Homo sapiens: one gene and its partners. The protein of the gene in region 4 interacts with the protein of the main gene of each other region in a pairwise test. Each region holds a gene or a part of one and is shown on either strand. Other genes may lie near its edges. The genes, in order: TAX1BP1, GOLGA6A, RAB3IP and TRAPPC6A.

Region 1 (7,042 bases), on a different chromosome or scaffold from region 4:
AAGTGGTGCGGGTGATACCTGGGCGGAATGTCTTGGCACTCAGGTGTAAAGGATTCTGGAAATAGGGATGTCTGCAAGGGTGCAAATTAATAGACTGGGGCTTTTGCTGTTGCCTCCTAGAAAAATTGCTGATTACATTTTTTGGGAGCAGAGGTCTGTTGAGAGTTGTTAGTCTTTCTTTTTTTGAGCCACAGTGTGAATAATTGGAAACTATTTGAATGCTGGACATTTTTTCCTTTCATATGTTTGTGTGTCCTATCGGATTAAAGTTTGGAGATAATTCTAAAGGTTTTTTAGCTGAAGATGTGAAAAACTTTCAGTAACTCTATCAACCATTACCTGAATTACAACACTTCTAAGGGTACAAAGCGTTCATATTCTAAAATGCAGTGTTTCTGCTACAGTGGGTCATATGTGGAGTGTTACTAATCTGTTTCATTTCTTTATTTGCTTTGGTTTTACTATTACAGAAATTTTCAAACATACACAAAGGAGAATGAACAGTAAAATGAACCGACACTTTACTAATCTTGTTTTATTACCCCCTCTAACATTAATTTTTTCCCCTGGAGTTTTTAAAGCAAATCTTAGACATCAAGACATTTCACTTACAGTTAGTTTAGTATCTTTATTTTTTTTTTTTTTTTTTTTTTTTTTTTTTTTTTTTTTTTTTTTTTTTTGAGACGGAGTCTCGCTCTGTCGCCCAGGTCGGACTGCGGACTGCAGTGGCGCAATCTCGGCTCACTGCAAGCTCCGCTTCCCGGGTTCACGCCATTCTCCTGCCTCAGCCTCCCGAGTAGCTGGGACTACAGGCGCCCGCCACCGCGCCCGGCTAATTTTTTGTATTTTTAGTAGAGACGGGGTTTCACCTTGTTAGCCAGGATGGTCTCGATCTCCTGACCTCATGATCCACCCGCCTCGGCCTCCCAAAGTGCTGGGATTACAGGCGTGAGCCACCGCGCCCGGCCTAGTATCTTTATTTTTTATTTTTATTTATTTTTTATTTTTGAGACGGAGTCTCGCTGTCACCCAGGCTGGAGTGCAATGGCGTGATCTCAGCTCACTGCAGGCTCCGCCCCCCAGGGTTCACGCCATTCTCCTGCCTCAGCCTCCCGAGTAGCTGGGACTACAGGCGCCTGCCACCTCGCCCGGCTAATTTTTTGTATTTTTAGTAGAGATGGGTTTTCACCGTGTTAGCCAGGATGGTCTCGATCTCCTGAACTCGTGATCCGCCCGCCTCGGCCTCCCAAAGTGCTGGGATTACAGGCGTGAGCCACCGCACCCGGCCTAGTTTAGTATCTTTAAATGATAAAGACTAGAAAAACACAGAATCACCATAATTATATTATCACACATAACAAAATTACCTTATTTTTGAATTCTAATTGTTAGGACTGGCAAATTATATTTAGTATTTATCTAAATTAAAAAGCTTAATTTGGCTTCATATGTTTAATGTACAGAAGTTCTTACTATGGTCTATTTTTCAGTAAGTTCACTAAGGCTTACATTTTTGGGCTAAAGTAAAACAAGTATTGGGAACCACTGGAAAAATACTACCACAAAAGTCAAATCTGCTTTGGGCTTGAAAAAGTTACAAGAGGAGTAAGTAAAGATAACATTGAAATGCTTCCCTGCCCCCACCCCATGTTTATTTTAGCTGTATACATAACTGAGTGCCCACTATATATTATTTATCTTTTTTATAGACATTAATGCATTCGCAAAATAATAAAATTGGAATTTAGACCAAAGACTTTATAATATACAGTTTACAGCATAACACACATAAAGAAATTCTAGAGGCATTGGAACTTGGGGAAGTGTAGTAGGAAACCTGGAAGAGGGCACTGTAGCCAGCATGTATAAGCATTTCTGATTTTGTTTCCCAGCCAAATGTGTCTGGCCCCTTAATTGTTGACTGGACGTTTCATACTTATCCTTGGCTTGCCTACTTACTATACTCCTGTTTGTAGAGGTGCACTTTAGAGAAGGGGAATCAGAATTTGACATGGTAAAGCTGCTTGCTTCTACTTTCCTTTTTGTGTAGGGAGTGTACTTCTCTCCAACTGAGAGGAGGTTTGTACTTTTTCTCAGGATGTTAGTGAAGCTACACTTCCCAGGCATTACCACAAGGTGATGCAGTGACTTTGCATATTATTTCTCCACTCCCGTGCGACCTTGACATTCTCAGTGAATTCCAACATTTTTGTAAGCTTGCCTAAGTCTGTTATCTGTAGGAGGAGTGAACCAGAGGAACTATGTGGGAATTAGAAATTTTATTATTTAAAATGGGTTGATAATGACATAATTATATTTGATTGCATTCATCCATGTAAACTTTTTAAATGATTAGTAGCTATATTGTAATTTAATAAGAGTAAAAAATGACAAGGTACTGGAATGACTTTTGTAAAATATTTCTATAATTATAGCAATGAAATTTTAAAAAGATTGGAGTGTTGGAGAGAGATTAATGAAGGCCATTAATAGGATAATCACAAATTATTTTACTTTTCAGACTTGTAACCATTGTGAATACTATATTTTAAAGTGAAATACTAGTGTTTTCTATTAGAAAATGTGAAATTCAGGGGAGGGTTTAAAAATGGAATTTCTTGTTAATAGGGCTATTTAAAACAATAGAAATAATACATTTATATATACTTGTAAAAATTCAAACAATAAATTGATGTAAAATTTAAGGTCCTTAAGTCTTCTTTTTACACACATCCCTTATAAGACTATTAACTCTATAGTGTATACTTCTTGAGTTCCTTTTGATGCATTTGTAAACATATACAAATACATATATGTATACCTATGTGCTATTTTGTACCTCAAAAACTTCAGTGAACTAAAAGTATAAGGTTGGATTGTGGGTTTTTAAAAAACTGTTATAATTGAGGTTAACAGAAGTTGAAACACTTTTGCCTTGTTTTATAAAAAAAATAGTTACAGCTTTGTTGGTTTAATTTATTTTAGGAAATGATATGTTAAATTTTAAGAAAAAAGTATTATCCTTAATCAGCTTTTGATTAAAAACATGGGACGTTTATTCTAAGCTAGTTTATTTCCTTCTTACTGAATATCTTTCTTAAAGGAAGCGTGACTATTCACTCACTTCATAGAAAAATATTATTCTCTTAATTCAGTTTTGGTAGTTGTATCTAATAGATGTTGGTTCTGTTGATTTAGCTATAGTTTCTTTTGTTGGTGTCTTGTAACCAGTAGTGAGTTTTTTTTTTTTCTTTTTTTTTTAAAGAACTGGAATTGGTGTTTTTTTTTTTTTCCTTTGTGAAGCCAGTGACTTGAGATAATCATTAATGACTTCATTAGTATCATGACCTCCCTGGGAGCCCAAATTAGCTCAGACAACTCAAAGAAACAAAATAATAAAACTCTTCAGTTATTTTAGGCAGAGTTCTCCAGTGTTTGTAAATGCTACCTGTTCATTTTTCTGATGGCTTTAGGTTACCAGGTAGAGAGTATTCATAGTTAAGTCTTTCCATGAAATATGGTTGCTGGTAGCAAAGTCCCTTTATTAGTGCAGAGGTAAAGGGGGATTGCTACTGAATATACTCTTTATCTTGGAATGCTTGCAAACCTCAGGTAGGGAGAGGCTGACAACTAGCCTGATACTCTACAGTGGTTTCCAGGTTCATGATTGACAGTCTCTTTTTGGGATATCCATTATATTCAGTAAAGCAGGACTTTGGCCATAACAGAAGCAGAGGGGACACAAGAAGAAAGTTGATATTTTTTAAAGTGCTTATTATTACAAAACTTTAAAAATTTGCCTTAGTATTTCAAACAGGTCAGCAAAAGAAACAGTTGTAAAAGCACACTGTTTTAGATCTTAGCAATAAGCCTTCTTACTAATGGCTAAAATATGAGTAGAGCCTTACTGCTGTGCTTGCTCTGTAGAAACTTCATTGATTTGTGAAGTAAATTAGATTAATTTGGTTAGCAAAAACCTTGCCCCAGTTTTCCCCATTATTACAGAGATGCCTGTTTTAATGACTCAAGCAAGTGCAGTCAGGACAGTCATAGTTTCTTATGTGTATTGTAGAATTAGTGATTGTACGGAGCCTGTGACAAACTCTACAGATTGCTTTTTTGGGTAAATCCTCATTTGTTTCTGTTTTCTCAAAAGTAGAGCACAAAATAGGGAAAACATTTGGATCTTGCAGTTTTTATAATCTGCTTTCACCATTCATCTGCTATCCAGTGCTTGGTGTTTACTAAGCCAGTGAGCGTTCATGAATCTCTAAGAGATTTTCAACAGTGTGTATTTTATTAACACTACACTTTTATTTTTATTTTTAAATATAAGTTTATTTTAATCAGTAAACATGTGGAAAGGGTACGTGAATACTAGAAGTTGAGGTAGGATCATTGATTGGACCTATGATGAAATGATAGGTTTGTTATAGGTGGAGAAGAACAAATAGGCTGAGCCATTTCAAGTAGACCAGCTAAGATTTTACATGGTTTGAGAGATTTGAACAAGCTTGTAACAGAAGCCCAAGAAGACAGGCTGGGTCTGGGATCTGTGGAAATGAGTGAGAGGTAGAAGTTGTTGGATAGTGGTTCTCTTTTCTGGTTGCATACAGGATTGAGATTACTTGGGGCGATGTAGGGGCAGGGCTATGTATATTCGTATACACACCCACAGACACACATGCACACACTCCCAGGCCCCAATCCCAGAAAGTTGTTGTCATCTATTTTTTTTTTTTAAAGGCCCCTAATGATTCTAATGTGTAACCAGGGTTGAGAAATGCTGGTCCAGGGGATTAGAAGGGCAGGAATGTAGGCACAGAGATGTTAGCGTCAGGTTTAGTTATAGGACCCCAAAACCTAGGGAGAGGGGAAGAGATGAATGGGATGGGCTAGGTTAGGGAGGAGAATGATGAAGCCCAAGGGTTCTACATAGGAAGGAAATGTTAATTGACCCATAGCCAGTAAAATACTGACTTTTAACTGTTCTTGTTTCTGTTTCTTAGTGTTTGTTACTAGGAGCCAGCAGGTTTATATTGGCAGCGTGTGCACAAAAACACCTCTGGTTCATTTGCTTTTGATTTAAATAGAAGCAGAGGGCTAGGCTTTCCAGGAGAGTTAATTTTTGGTTTTGGTTTTTTAACTTTTAAATGCCCATATAACTTTCTGAGCCAAATGGGTTTTAGTTATTTTTCCAGTTTGTCTGTATTTTTATATTTAATCAATTTTTAAGAAGTTCCAGTATTTACAAAGTATATATTTTCTTAATTATGACATGCAAATATTCATGAAACTTATATTAAATATTATGTATTTTCTGAAGGCATAAGTTTATTCTTAGTTGGTATAATTTAACTTGTATGAATTACTTGTTTCAGATTCACAATGACATCCTTTCAAGAAGTCCCATTGCAGACTTCCAACTTTGCCCATGTCATCTTTCAAAATGTGGCCAAGAGTTACCTTCCTAATGCACACCTGGAATGTCATTACACCTTAACTCCATATATTCATCCACATCCAAAAGATTGGGTTGGTATATTCAAGGTAAGAAAGCTTTCTGAATATGTTCTCCATGTAAACACTTAAAATTTTCTTTTAAAACAGATTGATAAGTAGCTTTTACTTGCCTTAACTCTGCATTAAGACTCATTTTTGTAAACATCACCATGAAATATTTAACAGTGGGGAGTAGATAAAATGGATGTTGGGAACTCCATTTCACCAGATTTTCCTCTCCCTGATCAGAAAGTTTACCTTCACTTAAGGACTTGTGAAAATTTTTTCAGAATCTTCTTTTCCTATTTTCTCCATTCATTACCTGCAATAAAAAAAGATCTTTTTCTTTGGGTTCTTATATTATTTACCATTTTTTCCAGTCATTTGAAATTAATTTTATACAGCTTGACAGCCATGTTATTATCCCTTCTACTGTCCTGCATGGCTTAAATATTGCTCAGATTGTATTACACAGTTTTAAGAGTATTCTGTTTGTATTACACAGTTTTAAAGTATTCTGTTTAACATGACTGAATAGTAAACTCTTTGATGGCAGGAGTTCTAGTTCTTATATTTTACCAGTGATTTTGTATAATACTTTCTTGAAAATGAAGGTGATCATTACAGTGGTACACCTCACTGTGCAGGACTTTTTCTGGCAATTTTAACTCTTCAAAATGTAGTGGAAAACCAAAACATAAGAATGTCCTCTGAGCAGTCAAAATAATGTCACGAATGTCCAAACAGTAAAACACATTCACTTTTCTCCTGTGTTATTCTGTAGTCTTCCTCAGAATCAGTTTGTTTTATTTTAGTTAAGATTTTTATGGGCTTGAAATTTTGATTGTCTAATCTGTATAAAGTTAAACAACAAGGAAGAAAGAAATGAATAGCTGCTAGAAATTAGGCACATTGAAAGTGTCTAGAAGTAAAAGTCCAGCCTGACGGGAAGGCAGAAAAACATTTGGACAAAACAATTTTGGCATTTAATGACTTAGTTCCTTTCTTTGAATTCCTCATTTCTTGATGTTTCTGAATACAACACAATAGTTATTTACTGTTTACTTTTTGTGTCAGTTTTTTAGGCTTGTCAAATCCCAAAATGGAGAAACATTCATTGTAACAATTTTATGAAATTAGGAGTAGTTTTTAAATTTTATTTCTTATTTTTTGAGACAGGGTCTTATTCTATCACTCAGGCTGGAGTGCAGTGGTGGGATAGTGGCTTACTGCAACCTGACCTCCTGGGCTCAAGTGATCCTTTCCCCGCAGCCTTCCAAATAGCTGGGATTATAGACACAACACCACGCCTGGCTAATTTTTAAAATTTTTTGTAGAGACAGGGTCTCACTATGTTGCCTAGGCTGGTTTTAACTTCCTAGGCTTAAGTGATCCTCCTGTCCCAGCCTCCCAAAGTGCTGGGATTACAGGTGTGAGCCACCGCACCTGGCCTCAGTAGTAGTTTCGATTTTATGGGAGATACTGGTATCAAGTTAAAGATACTGATTGAGAACTGATGTTTTCTGTAGTAACAGAGCAG
Region 2 (3,236 bases), on a different chromosome or scaffold from region 4:
GGTTGCCTAAGGATGAATGAACTGGACCAGATCAGAAAGGGAGCAGGTCAGGACTCCCGCACCGACCGGTAGTGGGACTGTGCCTGGGCAATATAGCAAGATCTTGGTTCTTAAAAGGAAAAATAAAGAACAGCAGCTCACTCCCCTCTGGGGAGAGGCTGGCTCAGGGTTACACAGTCAGGGTGGGGACAGAGGTGGGCCCACAGTACCTCCCTTGTTGGGTTGTCTGAGGACCCCTCTGGCCACCTCCCTACAGGAGATGGAGGACAACATCTGGACAGTGAGGAGGAGGAGGCGCCTCGGCCCACGCCAAACATCCCAGAGGACCTGGAGAGCCGGGAGGCCACGGTGAGCCTGACTTTCCCTGCCCCGCTTTGCCACCTTCCTCTGTGGTCCCTCCCAGACCCCCTTATGCTCTTGGTTTTCCCACCTTCTGATTGCTCTGGCCCCTCACCCCTTCCGGGAGCCAGTGGTCAGACACTTTGTCACCTGTGACCAACAGGTGCACTCTCTGAGGCCCCAAGGGAAGGGGTTGTTCTCCACCTCCCTGCCTCATTTGTTCTGTCTATGCCCCTACAAGAATACTCACCTCTTGCCTTCAAGTGGCATTTTTCACCTCTGCTGGAGCCAGTTCCCAGGAGGAGCAGGCACGGCTATGTGGGCAGCGGAAGGTGTGAAGGCTGTGCTGCCTGCACCTGGCTCATCTGTTGGCCTTCGCCTGGAAGGAGCCAGAGGCAGAGGCCCCAGCCCCAGGGAGTGGGGGTGAGTTTGTGTGTGGGGAGAGCTACCGGGCCCTGAAGGAGGCCATGGTGAAGCTGAAAGGGAGTGAGTCCTGGCATGGGCCAAGAAAAGTGGGGGCGGGGCAGAACAGGTCACTCCCGAGATGTGACCCCATTATTTTGGCTCCAGAGCAGCTTTATGGACCTCCCGAAGGAGAAGGCGGACGGGACGGAGCAGGTGGAGAGACGAGAGCTTGGATTCGTCCAGCCTTCTGGAGTGACAGACGGCATGAGTGAGCGGGAGGCCAGGGCACGGGCACGGGGAGCTGCAGGGCCGTCGGAGGGACCCTAGTGTCTGAGCTGTGTCCTCTCACAGGAGAGTCCTTCACCGTATATGAAAGCCAGGGGGCAGTGCCAAACACGCGGCACCAGGAGATGGAGGATGTCATCAGGCTGGCCCAGAAGGAGGAGGAGATGAAGGTAGGGCGTGCAACATCTCTGCGGGGTTGGGGGTGGGCATGGGCGCTGGTGCAGGCTCCAGGGTGGGAGCTGAGCACCCCTCCCTTCAGGTGAAGCTGCTGGAGCTGCAAGAGTTGGTGTTGCCCCTTGTGGGCAACCATGAGGGGCATGGCAAATTCCTCATCGCTGCCCAGAACCCTGCTGATGAGCCCACTCCAGGGGCCCCAGCCCCCCAGGAACTTGGGGCTGCCGGTGAGCAGGATGGTGAGTAGAGCTCTCAGGCGGGGTGGGCAGGCAGGGGCAGGGGAGGCTCGCACTGTGCTCAGACCCCCGCCTCCCTCTCTCCGAAGTTTTTTATGAAGTGAGCCTGGACAACAACGTGGAGCCTGCACCAGGAGCGGCCAGGGAGGGTTCTCCCCATGACAACCCCACTGTACAGCAGATCGTGCAGCTGTCTCCTGTCATGCAGGACACCTAGGAGCACCCAGGCTTGCCCAGCAAACCCTGCGTGCCATTCTTCTACCAGGCAGCCGAGAACAGGGAGATAAACATCATCATCTTCTAAGAGCTGGTCAAGAAATTTAAAACAACAACAACAACAAAAAGTTACGGGGTTCATCTCCTACACAATTCATTTACTCCATTTGAATGCTAGAGCCACTCACATTTATTTGTGTTTCTAATTTACCGTTTAAATTTATTTGTAAAAAGTTAAGGGAGAGTTGGTCTTTCCCTGATGTTCTTTCTGGCATCCTTTAGCATTTTTATTTTTAATTTGATAATTGTAGGTCATTAGTATGCATATCGAGTTTGCCCTTAGGTGGTGGGAATTCAAACACACAAAGACCCACTAATTTGCACAAAACTATTCTGGCTGGTTTGGAACAGGCTGCCATGCTTTTTTAATGTTATTGCAGCATGTATATTCATTCCAGAATTCAGATAAAATGTGCTTATGTTCTGCTATTACGTTTGATCGAATCCTAACCACAGTGAGCTCTTCATTAGCTCAATATGTGGTTTGCCCTCAATTGAGCACTGTTTATTACTTTGTAATATGCCACTGTGAGTACTGACATTTAGAGTTGTTTAAAGGCCAAGAACTGGAAACAGCCTTTTCCCTATTTTCTGTGTATTGGGGATGGGAGTAATAACATTTTGGGGAGCTTTTTAAATCTCACAGAAGAGGAAAGTGGCCTGCTCTGGCAGGTGTGTGCAGGATAGAGTGTGTTTCATTTGTTCTGGTGCCAAGAATGAGCGCTGTACTATGGTAGTTCCCTTAGGATTTGTATGTGCTCTGGGCTCATGAAGATATTGCATCATGAGCTGCAGCAGTTGTACCCTTTCTTGATGACCTAAAAAGGGATTATTTCTGAGGAATGAAAGGCTCCCATCATTGACTGTGGATGTGGAAAACCTTTTCTAGCTTAGAGCATTTATATCTACAATACATTTTAAAGTCAGAGTTCATGTTACCTGTTTTAATCACGAGTATATGTCCCAGTACACAAAAGGGCACTGGTTGGCATTCTTCTTAAGGTATTTAGTGAAGATCATAAGAAATCCTTTAAGAGTTTAAATGTCCCTGGAAGAGGCATACAGGCTCTAGTCAAGAATGAATTCGAGTGAAGGAAAGCTGTGTGACACCTGGCCTTCCTCTATGTTCATGGAGCTTCTTTGAGGCTAGAAGATTGATTTTATCATCTAGACCTCTCTGGCTAATACCTATTCTTCAGCCACATTAGTTACTCTGACATAGGAATTTACTTCTTTTCTTTGAATGGAAAACACTTTAAAAATAATAACAACCATTATTATAAACCAATATATGTGAGAGTACTTAGTTGAAACAAAAAGGAGTTTTAGTAGACAGTATTATACTACACATGAAAATCAAGGCGAAGTTTATGCAACTTAAAATGTTTACAAGCTGCAGTGCAATCTAATGTTTGTGAATGTCCAAGTATTATGAGAAAAAGTGTCTATACAATGACAGACTTATGTTTCCTCACAAAGTTCTTCACAAAGAGTGAAATATGTTTTTATACCTCTCAGTTT
Region 3 (7,042 bases), on a different chromosome or scaffold from region 4:
TGGTCTGAAAATCTTTTGCCCTTTAAATACATAGAAGCTTTAAGATTTATTTCACATACGTCTTTATAAGAGTAAAATAAACTACTATTTTTAAGCAGTAGTATCTTTCGCATTAAGCAATGAGTGATTCAAAAAGAACTAATTTCAACTGATTATCCCAATTAGTAAATTAAACTTGTCAAGGATCATGACCAATATGTAAAAAAGATGATCACATTAAATTCTTATGGGTGAATCACCAACACAACTTGGCTGGCCTTATTACTGAGCTCCAGGTAATAAAGCAGACTGCAGACCACAAGAAAAAGTTGATCAAAACAATTTGCTTCTGATCCCTAATATGCATTTCCTGTTAATTTTTCTTTCTCGAAATCAGTACTATCACAGCAAAAACAACAGCCAATCTTTACTGAAGGTTAACTATGTTGTCAGATAGTGGTGCTAAGAATTTCATACATATTAACTCATTTAATAAATGCCTAGAAAGATCCTAATAACTTATGAAATTTACTTTTTCTAATTAAAGTGAATTTTTAAAATGTTTCTTGAAAACAAAAGCCATCCCTAGGACAACTCAAGAAATCAGAATTAATGGGAAAATATTTTCAATGAAACATCTGAAGAACATGAATAAAATGCATATACATATTTTAAATGAAATCTAGCAACTTGATTTATATCAGTAGTCCAAAAGAAAAAATAAAATCCATTTTTCCACAAAAAGCACATTCCCCTAATTTGGACTTACCTTGACAAATGGGAAACATAGAATTTTAATTTTAGAAAAAAAAAAAAAAACTAAAGCTGTGATTTTTATCTTTTTTCATATCAATTTAATATATGTGAAAATTAAATAATTTGAATTCTATGTTTACTAAAATTCCTCAAAGCACTACACTCAGAAAGTAAATCATTTCCAACAAAGGAGGTAATATGGCAACACAGCAGAGTAGAAGCATCAGTACCTGAAGAAGAAAGCTAAGGCTCCTGATCAAGCTCTGAGATCTATCTATGAACCTGGGCAGGTAACTTATCTGAGCCCAAATATCTTCATCTATTTCAGTGTAGAATTGGATCAAATAATCCTGGTAGATAAAGGAATGTACTTGTCTACTAGAAGAAAAGCCAACAGGGTAACTTAACCAGTATTCACTATCTCATGAAATAGCTTGTACTCTGGAATCAGTCTCAAATCTTGGCTTCACCAGTTACTAATAAAGTGACCTGAAGATCTAAGTCTCAATTTCTCATCTAAAAATGGAGATGACAGGTCAGGCACAGTGGTTCTTGTAATCTCAGAACTTTGGAAGGCCAAGACAGGACGGTTGCTTGTGCCCAAGATGTTTAAGCAACAACCAAAAGCAACATAGCGAGACCCCATCTCTACAAAAAATTTAAAAATTAGCAGAGTGTGGTGGCATACGCCTGTGGTCCCAGCTACTCCTGAGCCAGGAAGGTTGAGGCTATAGCGAACTGTGATTGTGCCACTGCACTCCAGCCTGAGCAACAGAGAAAGATCCTCTCTCTCTCTCTCTCTCACACACACACACACACACACACACACACACACACACACGAAAGGGCAAGGGGAGAAAACTGTACCTATCTCCTAAGGTAGTCATGAGAATTAAAGAGCTTAGCACCATATCTGGCACTTACCAATTAAGACTGGCTCTTACTATTATAATCATCTCTAGGACATTTCCTAATACTGGCCAAATATTTTGATCATATTGTATCAGCACAAGCACTATCACTAAGAACAAAAAGCAATGATTGTTGAGTTTGGGTTTAAAAGCTTATTGTTTTGAGTGATTTTCCTCAAAAAAAGTAAACATCTATAAATCCTGTAGTATAATTTTGTTTTACTTGTATTATCACAATAATAGAAATTAAATATTCCAAGACATGTCAAAAGAAAAGGTTTAAGATTATGTAAGCACTATTTTCCTCTTTCAATTTATTCACAGACAGTTGTGGAAGGGGGGCAGGGAGGAAAGTCCAGATGCTTTTTAAATTCCCAAATGACTTCTTAATTTAACATGAATTATGAAAGAAACAGTTTCTGAGATTAAAAATGAGACTGCTACTTCAATAGCATATAATGAATTGAACTGTTATAAATTCCATGAATTAGTTACAAATTCCATCACTTCTTTAAAAACCTTCAACATTTATTATACATATTAAATACATTTATTTCATACATATATGTGATAAATTATATTTATTCTTGTTGGAATGGAAGGATGATTGCCAGCTTCAACACCTCCGGGCAAATCCTGATACTAAGTGCTAAGAATACAGATACAAATGGACCAAAGAGATGGCACACAGCCTCTACGAGCCACGGCATGATTATTCTGAGGGTTGTGGGGAGGGAAGAGGGAAGAGGAGAATGTCTCAAAGAGAAGTAAAATATAAGTCAGATTTTCAGTGCTGAATACAAGTCCAGTAGATGGGCAAGGGGAATAGGATAGGACAGTCAGGGAATAAGGGTCTGGCACTAACAAAACTAACAAAGGAGACAGTAACAGAAAAGCAGGCTGGAGAGGCAGACTGTGACAGACCATTAAAAGCCTTCTTTAAAAGAGAAAATGTTGCTTAAAGTTTATCCTGAAGAGATGGTGAGATCTACATTTTAGAAAGTATAGATGTATTGTAATGTAGTCATTTAAAAATGACTCCCAAGGCAATGAGAACTTCACTGGAGACTAGAGGCTGGTTAAACGATTACTGTCTGATCTAATGCCAAGGTCATGCACTGGGAATGAGGGGATGGAGGCATATATACGTATGGAAAACATTCAGAACAGCTTCATTTATATTTATTCACAAACACACAATTATTCCAGTTAATCTTCAGAGCATTCATTTGAAATGGTTCTTATCCCTACTTTACAGATATATAAAAAAAAGAGGCTGAGAGAGATTAATTTTGTCAAATACACAAAAAGTAACAGAGCTAGTATTCAAACTCTGGTGTGTCTGACTCTAACACCTAACTCCACTACATCTGAGATACACTTAGAAGCTGAAATGGATAGGGAGTAGGGAGATGGGAATAAAGGTTAAAGCACAGCAAAGGATCTCTAAGAAGTGAACAATCCTGGGTGCAGTAAACCACCATGGCACGTGTATACCTATGTAACAAACCTGCATGTTCTGCACATGGTATCCCAGAACTTAAAGTTTAAAAAAAAAGAAGTGAACAATCCAAACAGAATAATAATGTTTAATCTCTGAACCCTTCTCTTACTTTCACAAAGACAAAACTGAAGTTTCTCTAAAGCACTGCTATTGAAATGAGCATTTGCTATTGCTTTGTGTTCTATTATTTTCCCCTATATTATTTTTGTTATCATTTCCTCCTCTGTTTTGTTACTATGCCAGAATTTAATACTTATTCAGCTCCTTACAGGACTTGGAAAAAAAAAAACAGCACATAAATCAAAATAAACAGAAACTTGAATTTACTATAGTACCCATATTCCTGTGTATTTTTTTAAAAAGTGTAGATATTTTATACCAAGGAATTAGTGTTAATTTTTGAAAATTTGTAATAATAAAAGCAGGAAATGTAGATTAAAATGAAAAAATAAATAAAGAACAAAGTTTGTAAAAGTACTGCAGTTAACTGCTCTTATCTTTGGGAAATACTGAAATACCTACAGGTGAAATTACACAGGACTTGCAATTTGTTTCAAAATAATATAGAAGTGGGAGAAGTGGATGGATGAGGACTGATCACTGTTGATAGTTACTGGGCTACATGATGGAAACTTTTAGGTTCATTATACTATTGTGTCTACTTACCTTATTTGAAACTCTCCATAATTTATAGTGCTCTCAAAATAAAAAGGAAAGTTCAAAATTTATTCAAATACTGTATAATAAAGGAGGAAAAAACAAAACAAGTATATATATAAAATCATTTTTTCATTAGCTTTCATAATAATTTTAAAGTTGGCTTCCCAAACTAGCATTTTAGTTATGACAAAAAAAATCACATTTATCTTTTAAGAAGCATTCTATGTTTATAAATGCAAATGTAATTAATAGCCCAAGGGCAAAATTACTCAAATGGTCAATCAGGCTACACAATTTTCCCATTTTTATTATAATAGATCACAAATGAATTCCCACTAATTCCACAATACTTTTTTTTTTTTTTTTTTGAGATGCAGTCTCGCTCTGTCGCCCAGGCTGGAGTGCAGTGGCACAATCTCGGCTCACTGCAACATCTGTCTCCTGAATAGCTGGGATTACAGGCGCCTGCCACCACACCCAGCTAATTTTTTGTATTTTTAGTAGAGATGGGGTTTTGCCATGTTGACCAGGCTTGTCTCGAACTCCTGACCTCAAGTAACTGTCTGCCTCAACCTCCCAAGTGCTGGGACTACAGGTGTGAGCCACCATGCCCGGCCTAATTCCACAACACTTCAATGTACAACCTGACATGTGTAGAGATGTTAGTTATTGCAGTGTGTTATGTTGACAGTTTTCAGAAAATGTTCTGAACTTATGAGCTAATATTATATTTAATTACAAATAATTATTTGTAATAATACAATGAGCTAATATTTAATTACAAATATTTATTTGTAATTAAATATTTATTTAAATTAACAGAACACCGCATGTTCTCACTCATAAGTGGGAGATGAACAATGAGAACACACGGACACAGGGAGGGGAATATCACACACCAGGGCCTGTGGGGGAGTGGCGGGCTAGGGGAGGGATAGCATTAGGAGAAATACCTAAGGTAGATGATGGGTTGACCGGTGCAGCAAACCACCATGGCACGTGTATACCTATGTAACAAACCTGCACATTCTGCACATGTATCCCAGAACTTAAAAGTATAATTTTTTAAAAAAATCATTTTCCAAATTTCTTTTTCTCAATAATGGAAGCTTCATTTTACATATTCTCTTAAGAATATATGCCAACTAAACATTCAACAGGTGCTGAAATACGCACTGACTAAATAAATAAACAAGAGTCTTTAGAGAAGGAATGAATAGCAAAGCGGTAAAGAGTGGAGACAGTTATTCAGGCTACATTTTTGCTGAAAAAGATAGAAATGAAACAGTAAATACTTTGCGAGAGTATCAAAACTGGAGAAATTGAAGTTTGAGAAAACCTGAGCATTTTAACAGACTAACTTCAGAAAACCTTCCTTCTAGTTCAGATTCTGTCACTGACAAGCTGTGTGAACTGACGCAAGTCATTTAATCTCTCTAAGGTTCAGTTTTGACATCTATAATGGTAGTGATATTATCTCCCCTGCCTACATTTGAGAAAATCAAATGGCATATCAATGTAAAAATGTATACATTGTAAAGCACAACATAAATGTATGATTTTATAAAGATCTAAGAAAGAAAAAAATGTAATGGGGGAAATAGCAAAAGCATACTGAGGGGTTTGTCTTACAAATCAGAAGGTATCTTTATTTATCTTAGGTAAAAGGAAAGAAAGGGAAAACTAGTCTTTATGAGGCATGTAGTTCAAATATGATTCTTTTCCCCACAGGGAATTGATACAAATTTGCTTATTGTTTTTTCAAACTTATTTTGGTTTTTCTTTTATACTTTATCCTTATCTGACAACCAGATGCTCCCAAACAAATATTCAATACTATTACTTTTATCTGGGCATATCAAATTACAATTCACTTATTTAAGTGGTTCTAAGCTATCATCTATATGCTCCTTTATGCTCATAGGGCATTCTCACATTCTTGAATAGTTTCTTCATACTAAGCTGTCAATTCATATACTTATTTGTGTATGTATCCATACCCCTCAGAGGAATTTCATCAACTGCCATTATGATTATATTTACAATCCTACTGTTAACGACAAGCATCAAATCTTTCATGAACTTGAACTATTTGAATAATTTTCATTCTTTTTCCTCTAAGTAATATCAGTTTACGGCTATAGTTATCTAATTTCGTGTTGCCCTATATTCTAAGATAAATCAGATTACTTTTTCCACTTTTCTCTAACCATGACTATGTACGATGTAAGCTTATAAAACTACCTCATTTAGTGGTAAGTTGAAAAGGAAAGCAGAAGGGAAAATAGAGATAGCAAGTTAATGCTCCCAGTTGTATAAATATCTTCCTCTTCCTTCCTTTGTCCCTTCATTTCTCAATGTTCATTTCAATTTCTACTGCTAGAGCAGCTTCAAAACATCCTAACATTCTTCAACTGATCATCCATCACCAAACACAGCACAGTACTTACCTGGCCCGATGTTAAAGCTATAAAATGAGGTAAGCCCTACTCTCGAAGCACTTGTAGACTAGAGGAAGAGACCACCTTGCCAATAAACATGTTTCTAGGGCCCTAGAAACAATTACAAATACAACACAAATATCAAAGTTCATAAATACCAAAAAAGAGGTACTCAGTATTATAAAAGCATAAAATTTTTAAAAAGAGTACCATCTGGTACAACTAAGGATAGTAGCATAAAAAAGGAGAAACAAGCTAGAAAGCAGTTTACAAAAGCTCAGATATTTTGTTTTTAGGATATCAAATGCGTAGTAACCAATTTACTATCCTTTGATGAACTGCATCTTAATCAGAATTATATCGGAAAAAAGTTTAGTGTGAAAAAGCGTACTCCCTTGGAATATCTTCAAAGCTTTCCCTCATTACCTCAATGCACAAATATCTCTACCCACTATCCATCTGTCCTTCCTCTCCACTACTCAACTATCCTAGCACTTTGTCTTAGTTGACATTCATTAAAATATGTAAAGTGCGTTCTACATTTTGAAGAACTTATAAAAGATATGGGAATGATTATAAGGCCCTACCTTCCATATTCCTTAAGAACAGTTTCCTTTAACCCCTACTGTGACTTGCAGAGTAGATGCTCAATGAGTATTTGATTTAAAAAAATCTCTGGTGACACAATGAGAATTACATATTACATTAACATTACGTATCTCATAAAAGCTAAATTACAAAGTTCTTCAGCATTATAAGCTACACATAAAGAAGTGATAATGTAGTGATTA
Region 4 (5,847 bases):
TGAATCACGAGGTCAGGAGATCAAGACCATCCTGGCTAACATGGTGAAACCCCGTCCCTGCTAAAAATACAAAAAAATTAGCTGGGCGTGGTGGCGGGTGCCTATAGTGCCAGCTACTCAGGAGGCTGAGGCAGGAGAATGGCGTGAACCCGGGAGGCGGAGCTTGCAGTGAGCCGAGATTGCGCCACTGCACTCCAGCCTGGGCGACAGGGCGAGACTCTGTCTCAAAAAAAAAAAAAAAAAAAAAAAAAAAGACAGGGTCTTGCTGTTGCCTGGGCTGCAGTACAGTGGCATGATCATGGCTCACTGCAGTAGCGACCTCCTGGGCTCAGATGATCCTCCTGCCTCAGCTTCCCAAGTAGCTGGGACACGGGTGCATGCCACCACACCTGGCTAACTTTTGTATTTTTTGTAGAGAAGGGGTTTCGCCATGTCGACCAGGCTGGACTCGAACTCCTGGACTCAGCTGGGCGCGATGGCCCACGCCTGTAATCCCAGCACTTTGGGAGGCCGAGGTGGGCAGATCACCTGAGGTTGGGAGTTCGAGACCCGCCTGGCCAAAAGAGAAGAAACCCTGTCTCTACTAAAAATACAAAATTAACCGGGCGTGGTGGCTCATGCCTGTAATCCCAGCTACTGGGGAGGCTGAGGCAGGAGATTCACTTGAACCCGGGAGGCAGAGGTTGTGGTGAGCTGAGATCGCGCCGTTGCACTCCAGCCTGGGCAACAAGAGCGAAACTCCGACCTCCCAAAGTGCTGGAATTACAGGAGTGAGCCACTGCGCCCGGCCTAATCTTTCTTAAACGTATGTATAGCTCACATTTATTTCAGTGTTTAATATTTCAAGTGTTTTCATCCTTATTTAGAAGTTTGGTGATGTGTTTGTACCAGAAATATGGCATTGGAACTTCACTCTTGTTTATGTTAATTAACCTGCGTGAAATTGGTTTCATCATATGTCATTTTGCTTAAAGCCATAGTTTCCAAGAGCCTGTTGACAGCATTAGGTAAGGACTTACGGTGTCCTTTGTTGATGCACGTTGTCTCATCAGCCAGTCTGTTAAGCACCACCCACATGCCAAGCTCTGTGTTGGCTGCTGAAGGCCGGATGTGAATTGGTCAGCCTGGGTCCCCACCTTCACAGAGCTGTGTCCTCATCCAGGGACAGTGTGCAGTGGGCAGGGCTGGGGACGCAAGCTGGGAGGGAGGAAGGGAAGGAAGTCGGTACAAAGGCTCAGAAGTCTGAGCGAATGTCCTCAGGGGGCAGAGGAGAGGGTGAGGGAGGGATGGAGGCAGCTGGGCCCGCAGGCTGCAAGAAGCCTTCCTCGGACACGCTCTCCAGGCTGGGAGACCCGCTCCAGGGCTGGAGCCAAGCAGAGAATTCGCATCCCCATTCGGATGGCTGCGCTGATGGTGCAGCCCTGGAGGGAGGAGGCGGTAGCTGCCATTCCCAAGGGAAGGTGGGGGTCAAGGGCAGGAGAGGGAGGGCTGCAGGGCTCAGGCCTGGTGACTGCAGGCTCCTGAGAGCAGCCAGCGGGAGGGTGAGCTTCCTTCAGCTCAGGGCTGCACACCTGCCGCCTCTGTTCCCCCACTTCTGCTCTGCCAGGCTTTCTCTGAAAAACCTGGCGCCTCACGCCCCAGCCGTCCTGGGATTTCTGGTGCCCCCCAGTCTGGGCCTCCTCCCTTCCTCTGCTTGCAGCAAAACACCCGAATGAAAAAAAAAAAAAAAAAGATCCATGGCCAGGTGCAGTGGCTTTTGCCTGTAATCCCAGCACTTTGGGAGGCCAAGGCGGGCGGATCACTTGAGGCTAGGAGTTTGAGACCAGCCTGGCCAACATGGTGAAACCCCATCTCTACCAAAAATACAAAAATTAGCCGGGTGTGGTGGCACACAGGCCTGTAATCCCAGCTACTCGGGAGGCTGAGGCAGGAGAATTGTTTGAACCCGGGAGGCGGAGGTTGCAGTGAGCCAGCATTGCACCACTGCACTCTACCTAGGCAACAGAGTGAGACTCTGTCTCCAAAAAAGAAAACTCGCCAGGCGCGGTGGCTCACGCCTGTAATCCCAGCACTTTGGAAGGCCGAGGCGGGCAGATTGCCTGAGCTGAGGAGTTCGAGACCAGCCTGGGCAACACAGTGAAACCCTGTCTCTAATGAAATACAAAAAATTAGTAGGGTGTGGTGGCGTATCCCTGTAGTCCCAGCTACTCTGGAGGCTGAGGCAGGAGAATTGCTAGAACCCGGGAGGCGGAGGTTGCAGTGAGTCAGAGATTGGGCCACTGCATTCCAGCCTGGGCAATGAAGCTAGACTCCATCTCTTAAAAAAAAAAAAATCCATGAGCATCTCCTCTCCTCCAGCCATGCCCTCCACACACACAGGCACGTGGACAGACACCGAGTGCAGCCCTCCTACCTGGGGCCTGCCTCTGCCAGCACAGTCCCCTCCTGTATGGACCCTGGCCTACCCTCCAGACACTACATGGCAGCCACTGTCCTTTTCGAGCACCCAAACGAAGATCTGCCTGTCCCGAGCTTCCACGTGTTCCCCAGGGATCTTGGCCAATATTATAAGGCATGATGATCATGGTTGACTTCCACAGCCCCCTTTCCTGTGGCCCAGCCTCCAGCCCTTGGGCAGGTCACCTGGAGCATCTTGGTGGAGTCGCAGCGCCCACTTCCCAGGGCATTGTGAGGGTTCGCGCTGAAAGCACGTGCAGCCTGTCATGGGGGTTATCAGGAAAAGTCATGGAGGAGGAAGGGAGCCTGGGGAAGACCCCCATTGTTCCTGAGGGAAGGGGGAGCTGGTTCTTGGGGGCTGATGATCTGGGGATCCAGAGAGCCTGCAAGGTCTGCAGAGGTGGGTGAGGGAGCCCCAGCACCCTAGAGGCCTGCCCCTGCCCTGGCCGGGCTGTGCCAGAGCCCCTCCCTGCTCACCCCTGAACTGACGAGCACCAGCAAGTTGGTCTTTGGGTCCCCTGGCAGGTCCCCCCCTGGGTGGCCCCGGGTTCGTGGTGGCTAAGGGCCCCTGAGCATCTCTCCCCTGGCCTTCTAGGGACAGAAGATGAGCCTGTCGGTCCTGGAGGGTATGGGGTTCCGTGTGGGCCAGGCTCTAGGCGAGAGGTGAGCGCGGCCCCTCCTGCTCTCCCCCAGCCTGGCTGGCAGGGCTGGGCAGGCCCCGGGCGGGGAGGGTTGCATTGCTCCATGCAGGAGTCGGGCCTGTCTTCCTCCCTCTTCCTGGCCTGGCCCCACGGCCTCAGCTTGGTACTGCCCCACCAGGCTGCCCCGGGAGACGCTGGCCTTCAGGGAGGAGCTGGATGTCCTCAAGTTCTTGTGCAAAGACCTGTGGGTGGCGGTGTTCCAGAAGCAGATGGACAGCCTGCGCACCAATCACCAGGTGGGAGCACCCCGGCCTGCCCGTCCAGCTTCCTCCTGAGGGCAAGACCAAGAGAGTGGGAGGGGAATCCCCCGGCGCCAGAGCAGCGGCTGCCGGGACCCGCCCAGAGCTTTCCCACAGGCGGCCGCAGCTCTTGCTCTGTCTGATCCTCTAAGGGAAGCCAGGAGGCTGCGCTGGGGCATAGGGGGTGTTTCCGGAACTTCTCCAGCCTACCAGGAGTGAGCCATGCATGGGCAGAAAGCCCCTGGTGGCTGCCTGCCCTACCCCCAGTGTGATGCTGCTTGTCCCAAGCTGGTCTAGTCCCCCAGTGACACCCAGGCTGTACCTGCCCTTCTGCATCTTCCTGGGCCGGGTCCCCAGCTTTTCTGCACAACCCTGGGAGGCGAGGGCAGGACCCACACTCCCCAGGGCACAGGCACCCACTCCAAGTTTGGAAGCCCTGGGCCCTACCAGAGCACTGGAGGCCAAGGCTGTGACTCCAGTGGTTCTCAGGAAGGGGGCCTTCCCAACCTCAGCCCAATCTAAGACCTGGGTTCCTGCTTACCCTCCCTGCGCTTCAAATGTACAGGCCCCGACCCCACCCACCAGCCTCTCCTCTCCCCCAGGGGACCTACGTCCTGCAAGACAACAGCTTCCCCCTCCTCCTCCCGATGGCCTCTGGCCTGCAGTATCTGGAGGAAGCACCCAAGGTATGGGGGGAGCTGGGGCCTTGTCCACACCTCCCTTCCTCCTGTTTACCCAGCCCCATCCCACATCAGGCCTTTCCCCAGGCCTAAGGGGTGCCCCAGACCTCGGGTGCTGGCCTCCCCTCTCTTCCCATGCTGGTCTGTGTTCCCTCCTCAGTTCCTGGCCTTCACCTGCGGCCTCCTGCGCGGCGCCCTCTATACCCTGGGCATTGAGAGCGTGGTCACCGCCTCCGTGGCAGCCCTGCCCGTCTGTGAGTCATGGGGGGTGGGGGGATTCTTCTCATCCCTTGAGTTGCTGGGGGCTTCAGAGTTCCAGCCCCACTCCTGTGTGTGTGCCTGGGAGGCAGGCCCAGTTTTAAGTCACCTGCTCAGCCACACGGCTGGTGCAGGCCCATCTGTGCCCCTGGCTCCGTGACGTCGCCAGCCCTGCAGAGAGAACTGTCTGGCGGTTTTGAACATCGTTTCCCAGCATGGGAGCCGAGGTGGACGCAATAGAAGTTATCCTCACTGATCCTTCGATGGGGGCGACGGCAGGCTCCAGGGAACTTGCAGCCTGCCTGACTGGGTGTCCTCTGTCAGACAAGCTGGAGCCCCATTCCTGCCTGGGGACAGCCTGCCCCACCACCTCCCCCACCTTCAGTTATTTTGCCTCTGCCGGTTCCCCAGGCCCACTCATGGGGGCCCCCGGGGCCCCCGTGGGGTAGGACCGAGCAATGCATACCACAGAAGCCCGTGCCGGGCGCTTCCCTGGGGCCACATCCGTGGCCCTCATGCTCCTGGTTACTCACACAGCTCAGGGATGCGGCCCCGTGGGCGGGAGGAAACAGCCCAACCTAGCCACTGGGGTGTCAGTGCAGGACGGGGGTGAGCGCCTAAGAGCCGTCCAGGTGCCCTCTGCCTCCCCCATCCCATCCTCAAGCCTAAGCCAGGCCTTCTCTTCCAGGTAAGTTCCAGGTGGTGATTCCGAAATCCTAAGCCTGCCTCGCACCTGCTGAGCCGCACTGCTGCCCCTGGCCTCACCGGCCTCAGGAGACGGTGGGGCCGCTGCATTTCGGGGTGGTCTTGGGAATCCCAGGCCCTAGGGGTCACATTTGCTCAGGAAGTGGGTATCAAATTGAGGTGGGGGTGTCAGAGGAGGCAAAGGGGTCCCAGCTGCGGTCAGGACTGTGGTGGGATTCCCGCCTCGGCAGCGTCACTGCCCAGTAGCTGCTCAATAAAGGCTGTGTGTGTGGAATCTGACTCAGAGCAGTGGGGGAGGATCTGTGGACCGACTGTCACAGGTCCTGCAGGGGAGTGGGTACCCTCTCTGGCTCCCATGCCCCTCAGACCTTCCCTCCCCTGCCACGTCCCCCTCCACTCCCTCCCTCCCCGTGCTCCTGGCAGAGGGATGCTGGCCTCCGGCATGGGCGGCCTTACTGGCACCTCTGCCAAGTCAACAAGTCTGGGGCTGCCCTCTGCCCGGCGATGTGCACAGAACGGAGCGTCTTCCTGGGGAGCAGGGCTGGGAGTGCCCGGAGTGTAGGCCAGGTCGGGCTGGGGCTGCCAGGGCTGGGGATGCATGGGGTAGGGGGAGGCCAGACACCCCCATGGACACACGCGGCCCCTACGCACTCCTGCTGCCCGTCCCTGGGCAGAGTGGCCCTTATGCTGCCCCCTCCCACCCCGCTCGCATCTGTAGCATCTGGGGACTCCTGGGCTTCGCCGCCCGCTGCCTGACATGGGTAAGTGCCCCAGGCTCAGAGCTGCCCACCAAGGCTGGGGGTGAAC

The links.
Region 1: the proteins of TRAPPC6A (region 4) and TAX1BP1 interact in binary tests that used the Homo sapiens proteins (3 or more experiments, as listed by UniProt).
Region 2: the proteins of TRAPPC6A (region 4) and GOLGA6A interact in binary tests that used the Homo sapiens proteins (3 or more experiments, as listed by UniProt).
Region 3: the proteins of TRAPPC6A (region 4) and RAB3IP interact in binary tests that used the Homo sapiens proteins (3 or more experiments, as listed by UniProt).

Annotation. Positions count from the first base shown.
Region 1 is NC_000007.14:27,743,137-27,750,178, forward strand, and holds part of TAX1BP1 (tax1-binding protein 1), read left to right. Parts: intron 1-5,381; 5' UTR 5,382-5,388; coding exon 5,389-5,550; intron 5,551-7,042.
Region 2 is NC_000015.10:74,069,330-74,072,565, reverse strand, and holds the end of GOLGA6A (golgin subfamily A member 6A), read left to right. Parts: intron 1-256; coding exon 257-348; intron 349-909; coding exon 910-1,012; intron 1,013-1,095; coding exon 1,096-1,199; intron 1,200-1,288; coding exon 1,289-1,442; intron 1,443-1,528; coding exon 1,529-1,656; 3' UTR 1,657-2,709; downstream 2,710-3,236.
Region 3 is NC_000012.12:69,741,828-69,748,869, reverse strand, and holds part of RAB3IP (rab-3A-interacting protein isoform alpha 1), read right to left. Parts: intron 1-7,042. UniProt on the Homo sapiens protein: Guanine nucleotide exchange factor (GEF) which may activate RAB8A and RAB8B. Promotes the exchange of GDP to GTP, converting inactive GDP-bound Rab proteins into their active GTP-bound form.
Region 4 is NC_000019.10:45,162,400-45,168,246, reverse strand, and holds the end of TRAPPC6A (trafficking protein particle complex subunit 6A), read left to right. Parts: intron 1-3,052; coding exon 3,053-3,120; intron 3,121-3,276; coding exon 3,277-3,394; intron 3,395-3,999; coding exon 4,000-4,083; intron 4,084-4,237; coding exon 4,238-4,331; exon of another isoform or gene 4,332-4,337; intron 4,338-5,023; coding exon 5,024-5,055; 3' UTR 5,056-5,314; downstream 5,315-5,847. UniProt on the Homo sapiens protein: May play a role in vesicular transport during the biogenesis of melanosomes.